3 separate regions of the Homo sapiens genome follow, and all the other regions are linked to region 1. Evidence: fine-mapped expression QTL. A gene starts in region 1. Each other region holds a variant in brackets. All regions are shown on one strand. Distances are from middle to middle. Region 1 holds the start of RNGTT (RNA guanylyltransferase and 5'-phosphatase). Region 2 has its middle 360 kb from the start of RNGTT. Region 3 overlaps RNGTT (RNA guanylyltransferase and 5'-phosphatase).

Region 1 (2,767 bases):
AAAAAGGAATAAACTATTGATACATGCATAATCTGGATGAGTATCAAATTAATTATGCTGAGTGAAAAAAGCCACACACACTTCCTTCCACCCCAAGAAGAGTACTCACTATATGTTTCCATTTATTTAAAAATTTCTAGAAAATGCAAACCAATCTATAATTACAGAAAGCAGATCAGTGGCTGCCAGGCGAAGGAGGGATTTAAAAAGGGGCAAGAGGAAACTTTGAGGGGTTTCATGGTTGTTTCCTAGGAAAGAGATATATTTGTGTATATACAGTCAAAATTTATCAAACTGTACGCTTTAAAGCTTATTGTATTCAAGCTCAATAAAGATGAAAAAAACTACAAGAAAAATAATTAAAAAAAACAAAAACCCGGCCAAGCGGGGTGGCTCTCGCCTATAATCCCAACACTTTGGGAGGCCGAAGTGGGAGCATCGCTTGAGTCCACGAGTTCAAGACCAGCCTGGGCAACACAGTGAAACCCTGTCTCCACAAAAAATAAACAAAAAAATTATGGCCAGGCACAGTGGCTCACGGCTGTAATCCCAGCACTTTGGGAGGCCGAGGCGGGCGGATCACTTGAGGCCAGGCGTTGGAGACCAGCCTGGTCAACACGATGAAACCCTGTCTCTACTAAAAACAAAAATTAGCCGGGTGTGGTGGCACGCGCCTGTAATCCCAGCTACTTGGGAGGCTGAGGCAGTGAGCCGAGATCACGCCACTGCACTCCAGCCTGGACGACAGAGAGAGACTATGTCTCAAATATATACATTATAAATATATATATACTTTAATAAATAAAAAAATTAGCCGGGTGCGGTGGCAGGAGCATGTAGTCCCAGCTACTTGGGAGGCTGAGGTGGGAGGATCCCCAGCCCGAGCAAGAGACCCTGTCTCACAAGAAAATAAAAATAAAAAACTAACAAAAACACCCTCCAGATTCCCAGTCTCAATGTGACCCCATTTCACCGCTGGGAACCGCCCCTTCCCTCCTTAACCCTCCTCCATCTCAATACTGATATTCATCCCTTCTTTCGAGGGGAAGGTTGAACCCTAACAGGTTCGCAAACTACTAAGACTCAAAGTACGCCCACTGTATTCCTGGATCCTCACCTCCTGCCACCAACCTCCTGTCTACCTTCACATTCGCACAGTTAGCCTTGCAGGAATAGTAACAAGTGCCCCCCATCCGCCGACCATCCCCTCCCGTTCATGTTCCCATTCATCCACGAAGCGTAATCCGACGGAGCATATCCCGCTCCTGAAATACCACTAATGGGCACAGAACCACCAAAAGCTGAGCTCCTCAGTCGGCCCACCCCCGGGCACGTTGGAGTGTGGGGATTCGAACGCCCCCCAGTCCAGGTTACCTGCCACCGGCTGGCCGCGCCGGGGACAGTTCAGCCACCGCGGCGGGATCTTGTTGTGAGCCATGTCTTGGGGCTGCGCAGAGCTGCCCTCCCTCACCAACGTTCACCGCGCCTTTGGAGCCGCCTCCCCGTGGTCCGGTGCACACCGGGGTCCGAGACACCCGAATCGCAGCCGTAATCTGAATTCCAACCTCTCCGATCCGGGTAACGTCAGGGGCGGCGCGCCACTTTCATTCAGGATCAACTCCACAGCTCCAGGAGAACCCACAATGCACCGCAACTTCCGCCCCCGAAAGCCCCGCCCCCTTTCCGAGGTCAGAGGGAAAGAAGAGGAAGCTCAGCGGAAGGATAGCAAAGAGTTAAGGACGCGACGAATGGGAGGAGCGGGCCTTCTCTCGCCCCACTCGGCACCGCCCCGCCCCGCCCCGTCCCGCTCCACGGACGCGCCCGGACGCTACTGGTTCGCCTTTGCGCATGTGCAATTGCCCTCGTACCGAACTCCGCAGGACGAAGCGTGTATTTTTTTCCCATCCAGACAACCTAGAGAAACCCAAAAAAGAGGGAAGCCAAGCGCCTTTCCATGCGTAGATTGCCCGCCACTTCCGTTAAGGCATCTATTTTACTGATGAAAAGAGGCCTTCTGAGCGTTACCACAGCTCAAGCTTGGCGTCCCAGCCGGATCTAGGTTTGATTTGCAATTAGGGAAAGTTGTTCAAGGGAACAAGTCTTAGGAGAATTCTAAGGACATGAGATTGGAGTACCAGAAATGGGGAATTTTTCTTTTGGTGAGTACTTACGAGGATCTATGAAGCTTCTGAAATTAATTCCAGAACACTTAGAGTTTTGTTTGTACATTTCTGGATCAAAGTTTCAAAGCATACTGGGGAGTTTGAGAGGGTCCATGTCTCCAAAAAAAGTTACTAATTAATGTGGTATAATTGACAAAGGTAGGAATTGATCAGTGGAGAACCTCTTCGTGGCGTTGTTCTCCTTGGCCTACCAAATAAACAGTGCCTTTTATTTTCCCTTCGAGTTAAGCAGAGGTGCTTGAAAAATTTTTATAAATGCCGTCCTTTAACGAGCCTTTCCTTTGTTACCAGATTAAAGTGTTAAATATAAAGCTGGATGATGGCGAATCAATTATAATGTAGTTTGGCTTTAAACACCAATGCTATATTGGAACTGCAAGAACGTAAGGCTGCAGGGAATACATTTTTAAAGCGTCGGTGGGGAACTTTCTGGGACGCTCAACCCCCTGAATGCCTGGACCCCCTCAGTAAGAGTCCCATCAATAGAGGCAGTCCAACAGCAATCTCTCTGAGGCAGCCTGAGTTAGGTCACACTTCTGGTCTGTCCTGCTGTTGCATCTGCTCAGAACTGTTAGTGAAGGTGT
Region 2 (2,767 bases), 360 kb before region 1:
CAGTCTTCATCGCCTTGGGACTCTTCAAAGAGTCCTACAGGCAAGAAGGCACTCATTCGATGCTGCCCCCTGACCTTGGATTTCTCAGCCTCTAGAACTGTGAGAAACAAATTCATTTTCCTTATAAATTACCCTGTTTCAGGTGTTCTGTTATAAGCAACAGAAAATGGACTAAGACAGGTGCCTTGCCAATCTCAGTCCCCACTCTCCCTCACCTTTTTGGAGCCAGCTGTACTTTCTGATCTTGGGATCAGATCCCATGCACCCCGCTATCATCCCTTTCTGACTCGACTTGATTTCTTACCCAGTATGGGTTGTAAAGTTCCTCACCTTCTCAACTTTCTTCTGTTCTCACCTTGCCATTCTTCAATCCTGAGCCATCAGAACAATGCCTCTTAGTCCTTTTCATAATATGGCAAACATAGAAAACGATAATATGTGAATGCCACCCTGGGGTAAACTAAAGAATTAGGGTGTCTAAGTGAGTGTTGAGGGGAAAAGGTTCATTACATTTTCTTTACATAATTGTGATAAGACAAAGTAAAATACAAAGTCCCAGAGAAGATATGGCTTTGTAGGAAACTCTGAAATAAAACATTTTTAAAATGTTAAGTCTGAAACCTGAACTTGTGTCCATGAACATGCCTTTTTAAACATCAGGCTTAATGCTTCAAATGGCTGTCCTCAAATCCTAATCAAAACTTCTGAATCATAGTATCTTCAAATGCTTTGTAGTTACTATCAATGAGAAACCTTGCACATGTGGGTGATGAAAAAATTAAAACTATTTTTTGCAACCTTTCAAAAATATCAATGGTTGAAATTATATTTAAAGAATCTACTTTTTCTTTTTCTCATTTCTACAAATTTCTTGTGATTTCTCACTGACATTTCTTGTGATAACACAAATGGATTTCCAGTCCAACGATATTATTTACATCAATTATTTCCAAATAATGATGAGGCCCGGATGTGCAGCATGTGCATGCATTGTTCAGTCAGTCTCCCAGTAACCCAAATGAATGACACCAAAATGGTCTGTCACAGGTGAAGGCAGAGACTTGGTGCCACCCTCTAGGGCCCTTCCCAGACTCCCAGGCACCCTTTTCTGATCAGCCACACCCTGGGTCGTGTGCCCAGTAGCTCTATGAGCCCCTTGTCCAGAATGGGCAGTGTCACGCCTTGCAGCTGGCCTCGTCCAGTCTCCATGGTGGAGAACAAATGTAGACTTTATGTATCTGATGTTGGTCATTGTGCTTTTGCCTCCAGGGGCCCCGGGGTGCTCCCCGTCGGGAGCCCAGAGGCATCCCTTGGCTGTAGGTAGAGATCCTGGCCACCCCTGTGGGCTGAGAAAATCGACATCTACAACTCCCTGGCGACATGGCAGGGTGTCTCGAGACAGTGGTTGGAAAGCTCTGGCAATACTCCCACTACCCTTGGGAGTATTAATCCATCTGTTGACATAGATTTAACTCCAAACCCCATCACCTCCATTTCCTCCTATTTTCTCATTTTTCTTGTGAGGACTAAGCTCTGACTTTTTTATCTCGCCCAAATTCCTATCTAAGGGATCTAGGGAGTCATGCCCTACAAACCACAAATTCTCATCAGATGGGTTTTATCTGACTCT[A/G]TATATCATGACTTACTTACCAGTCTGACTCTGGCATAACATTATGAGACAGGGAAAAAAAATCAAAATATTCAACCCCAAAATATGTTTCCTTGCCATACCTTGAAACAGCACTGCAAAGTCTCTTGTGGGAAAGATCCACATTCTATGGAGAATCACTTTTCCCCTTTGTTTTCCTCCCTTCCCTTCCAGATCCAGGAGATAACTAAGAGCCAGGCACCGTTTTAGGTCTGATAAGAAAGATTTTACAACCTGCTGTTTCTCTGAAGTCTGCTAAGAGCTTCCTCTGCACAATAAAACTTGGTCTCCACGATCCTTTATCTTAACCTGAACATTTCCTTTCTATTGATCCCAGGTCTTCAGATAAACTCAATCAATCGTCAACCAGAAAATGTTTAAATTTACCTATAGCCTGGATGCCCCTCCCCACTTTGAGTTGTCCCGCCTTTCTGAACCAAACCAATGTATTTCTTAAATGTATTTGATTGACGTCTCATGCCTCTCTAAAATATATAAAACCAAGCTGTGCCCCAACCACCTCGGGCACATGTTCTCAGGACCTCCTAGGGCTATGTCACGGGCCATGGTCACTCATATTTGGCTCCGAATAGATCTTTAAAAATATTTTACAGAGTCTGACTCTTTTCATCAACACTCGACTTCAGCCATCCCTATCATGCTTCTGCAGGTCACCTAGAAACCAAATTCGAGGTCCTTTTCTCAGTCCTTGGCTCTCCAGGACTTCCCTGGAGCAGTCAGAACTATTTTCTGCCTCCACTATCAAAAAACTTTTGTCTTGTAGCTCTGGGGGCCGGCACCTTCTTGAGTGTCATTTTACTTCTTGACTTTAATTTCTTTTCCTTACTTCTGGATGCCTTTTCTTTGCTGGTTATATTTTTTTCTTATACCCACAGATGTGGGGGTCCCTAGTCCTCTTTTTACTTCATACCTCCTACTGACTGCTTTTACCATTGCTGTTGTGTGGACAGACTTGAAATCTTGCCAGCAGTCTGACTGCCTAAGCTCCAGTTCTAAATTCTCCCCTCGACAGTTCCATCTGATGCTCCTGAAGGCATCTCCAGTTCATCACGCTCTGAAGCCCTTTATTCCTCCCAGCCCCACATCAGCTCTTCCTTC
Region 3 (2,767 bases), 32 kb before region 1:
ATACGTACATACATATATACATATACATATATGTATATACATATATACATAAACATATATACATATATACATATAAAACATGTATCTTATTATATATATTTTATATATATGTCCCTTTCTTTGTTATTAACAACTCTTCTATTTTCTGAAAATATACTGAAGCCTCAAGTTACATTTTTTGAAAAGAAACAAGGTTAAAAATAGAGACAATCTTATTAAGAAGATGGTAGTACGGGAAATTTGGCCAGACACAGTGGCTCACGCCTGTAATCTTGGCACTTTGGGAGGCCACGGCAAGAGGATCGCTTGAAAAACCATGTGTTTGGGGGGAAAAAGATTAAAAAATTAAATAAATTTTCCTCTCCTATTCTTTCAGTATCATATAAAAACAAGGTAAATTGTTTAAAAAAAAGTTTCATTTTCTGTAAAACGAACGCATATAAAATCCACACATTCATAAAAAATGTCTAAGTTCTGCCAAAAAATTAAGAACACTACAGAAGCTATATGGAAAGGAAGAAAAGAGAAGCAGACCCAGGAGCAGCAGATTTTAGGAAAATGCCAATAAAAATACATTTCCGGTAAGAAAGAGCTCACCATAAAGTGGCAGACCTATCTCTCATCTACCCAAGAGCTAAGGAGTCTGGAGAAGATGGGGCAGATTACAGGGAAGCAGAAGCAATACAAGGGGGAAAATGCAATGAAGACACACAAAAGCAGTAAAAATGACCCCATGCTGGTAAATTTCAGAAAATGTCAGCACACATTTTCCAGTTCCATAAAGAAACCATCCAAGTAAAGTAGTAAGAAGATTCCCTAAACTGAAATGCTTGGGACTTGAAGTGTTCAAGATTTCAGATTTTTCAATATTTGCATTATACTTACAGGTTGAGCAATCCTAATATGAAAATCCAAAACCTGTAATGTTCCAATAAGCATTTCCTTTGGGCATCATGTAGGTGCTAAAAAAGATTCAGATTTTATATTTTTGGATGAGGGATGCTCAACCTGTACATACTTTAATGGAATACTATAAAGCTG[TA/T]AAAAAAAAAAAAAAAAAAAAAAGAACAAGAAGTTCTATGTGCTAATATATGAAGATCTTCAGAGTATACTATTAAGCTGGAAATGCAAGTTTCAGACCAGCATATATAATGTGCTACCTTGAGTGTGCAGGGGAGAACACAGCAATCTGTATTTTTAGTTGCTTACATACACATAAAGAAATTCTGAAAGGATGTATTAAAAAATCTAAAAACAGTGGAACCTGTGTGGTATGTGGTGAGGGACTAGGCAGATAGAGAGCAAAAGTGAGAGGGAGACTTCATGATACCAACCTTTTTTTGTGGATTTTTGAAGTAAGTGAACGTATTGTCTATTTCTAAAATGACAAAAATCACTATGATTTTTAGGTACCATGTGATGCCTAAGAATCACACCTTGGGCAGTTAAATTCTAACACATAGGGTAAAAAAGTATGTACAGTCAAAATTCTCTCATAAATTCCTTAAGTAACCAATGAAGAACAGTATACATGGCCATATGCATATTACTGGAGGCTTAATCCCATCTCAATAAGTCAACCATTGTTGCGGGAAGTCAGGGACCCCTAACAGAGGGACCGGCTGAAGCCATGGCAGAAGAATATAAATTGTAAAATTCCTATGCCTGTCTTTACTTTAATCTCTTAATCCCATCATCTTCGTAAGCTGAGGATGTATGTGGCCTCAGGACCCTGTGATGATTGTGTTAACTGCACAGATTTTTCATGAAGCATGTGTGTTTGAACAGCGTGAGATCTGGGCACCTTGAAAAAAAGAACAGGATAACAGCAATGTTCAGGGAACAAGGGAGATGACCATTGGGTCTAACTGCCTGGGAGCCAGGCAGGACAGAGCCATATTTCCCTTATTGCCAAAAACAGGTAAGAGAAATATCACTGAATTCTCTCCCCAGTAAGGAATATTAATAATTAACAGCCCTGGGAAAAGAATGTATTCCCAGGAGTAGGCCTCTAAAATGGCCGCTCTAGGAGGGTCTGCAGTTGCAGATAAGGGATGAAACACACCCTAGTCTCCTGCACACCCCCAGGCTTGCTAGGATTAGGAAATTCCAGCCTGGCAAATTCTAGTCAGACCGGTTCTCTGCTCTTGAACCCTGTTAAGATGTTTATCGGTGACAACGTGTGCACAGTGGGACAGGGAACTTCCTTAGTAATTCTAGTTTCGCCCTGACCTTGTGATCTCACCCTGACCTTCTGCCTTGTGATCTTTTATTGCCCTATGAAGCATGTGATCCCTGTGACCCACACCCTATTCGTACACTCCCTCCCCTTTGAAAATCGCTAATAAAAACTTGCTGGTTTTGCGGCTCAGGGGGCATCACGGAACCTGCTGACATGTGTCTCCCCTGGACACCCAGCTTTAAAATTTCTCTCTTTTGTACTCTTTCCCTTTATTTCTCAGACCGGCCGACATTTAGGGAAAATAGAAAAGAACCTACGTTGAAATATTGGGGGCTGGTTCCCCCAACAGATTATAGCCAATTTTTCTTTCTGGATTGGAACAAAAACCATTATTACTTCTGTTGAGCTGAAGAAGTTGATTTGCATTCAGGGCCCTTCAGTATGAAAAATCTTTAAAACCTAGAATCACAATCAGCCAGCAAGATAGTCTCACTTAGAAACGCACACCTAAACTGAGGCTAAAAAAAAGTAATAGTAAATTCATACATCTTCCACCTCATTCTGAAGCATATACTCTAATATAAA

The links.
Region 2: its variant is fine-mapped to the expression of RNGTT in whole blood (TOPMed, PIP 0.94).
Region 3: its variant is fine-mapped to the expression of RNGTT in neutrophils (Naranbhai 2015, PIP 0.95).

What each region holds. Positions count from the first base shown.
Region 1 is chr6:88,961,972-88,964,738 of GRCh38, forward strand. RNGTT (RNA guanylyltransferase and 5'-phosphatase) reads right to left here and starts at 1,647. Exons shown (of 16, transcript NM_003800.5): 1 at 1,375-1,647. The coding sequence starts at 1,438. RefSeq lists enhancers at 66-992, 1,347-1,726 and a silencer at 1,710-1,944.
Region 2 is chr6:88,601,506-88,604,272 of GRCh38, forward strand. No RefSeq gene overlaps it. Among named protein-coding and RNA genes, the nearest start is that of RNGTT, 360 kb to the right of the region's middle. The variant A/G (reference allele first, on the strand shown) is at 1,631.
Region 3 is chr6:88,930,146-88,932,912 of GRCh38, forward strand. The region is part of intron 2 of RNGTT (RNA guanylyltransferase and 5'-phosphatase); the gene reads right to left. Among named protein-coding and RNA genes, the nearest start is that of RNGTT, 32 kb to the right of the region's middle. The variant TA/T (reference allele first, on the strand shown) is at 1,042.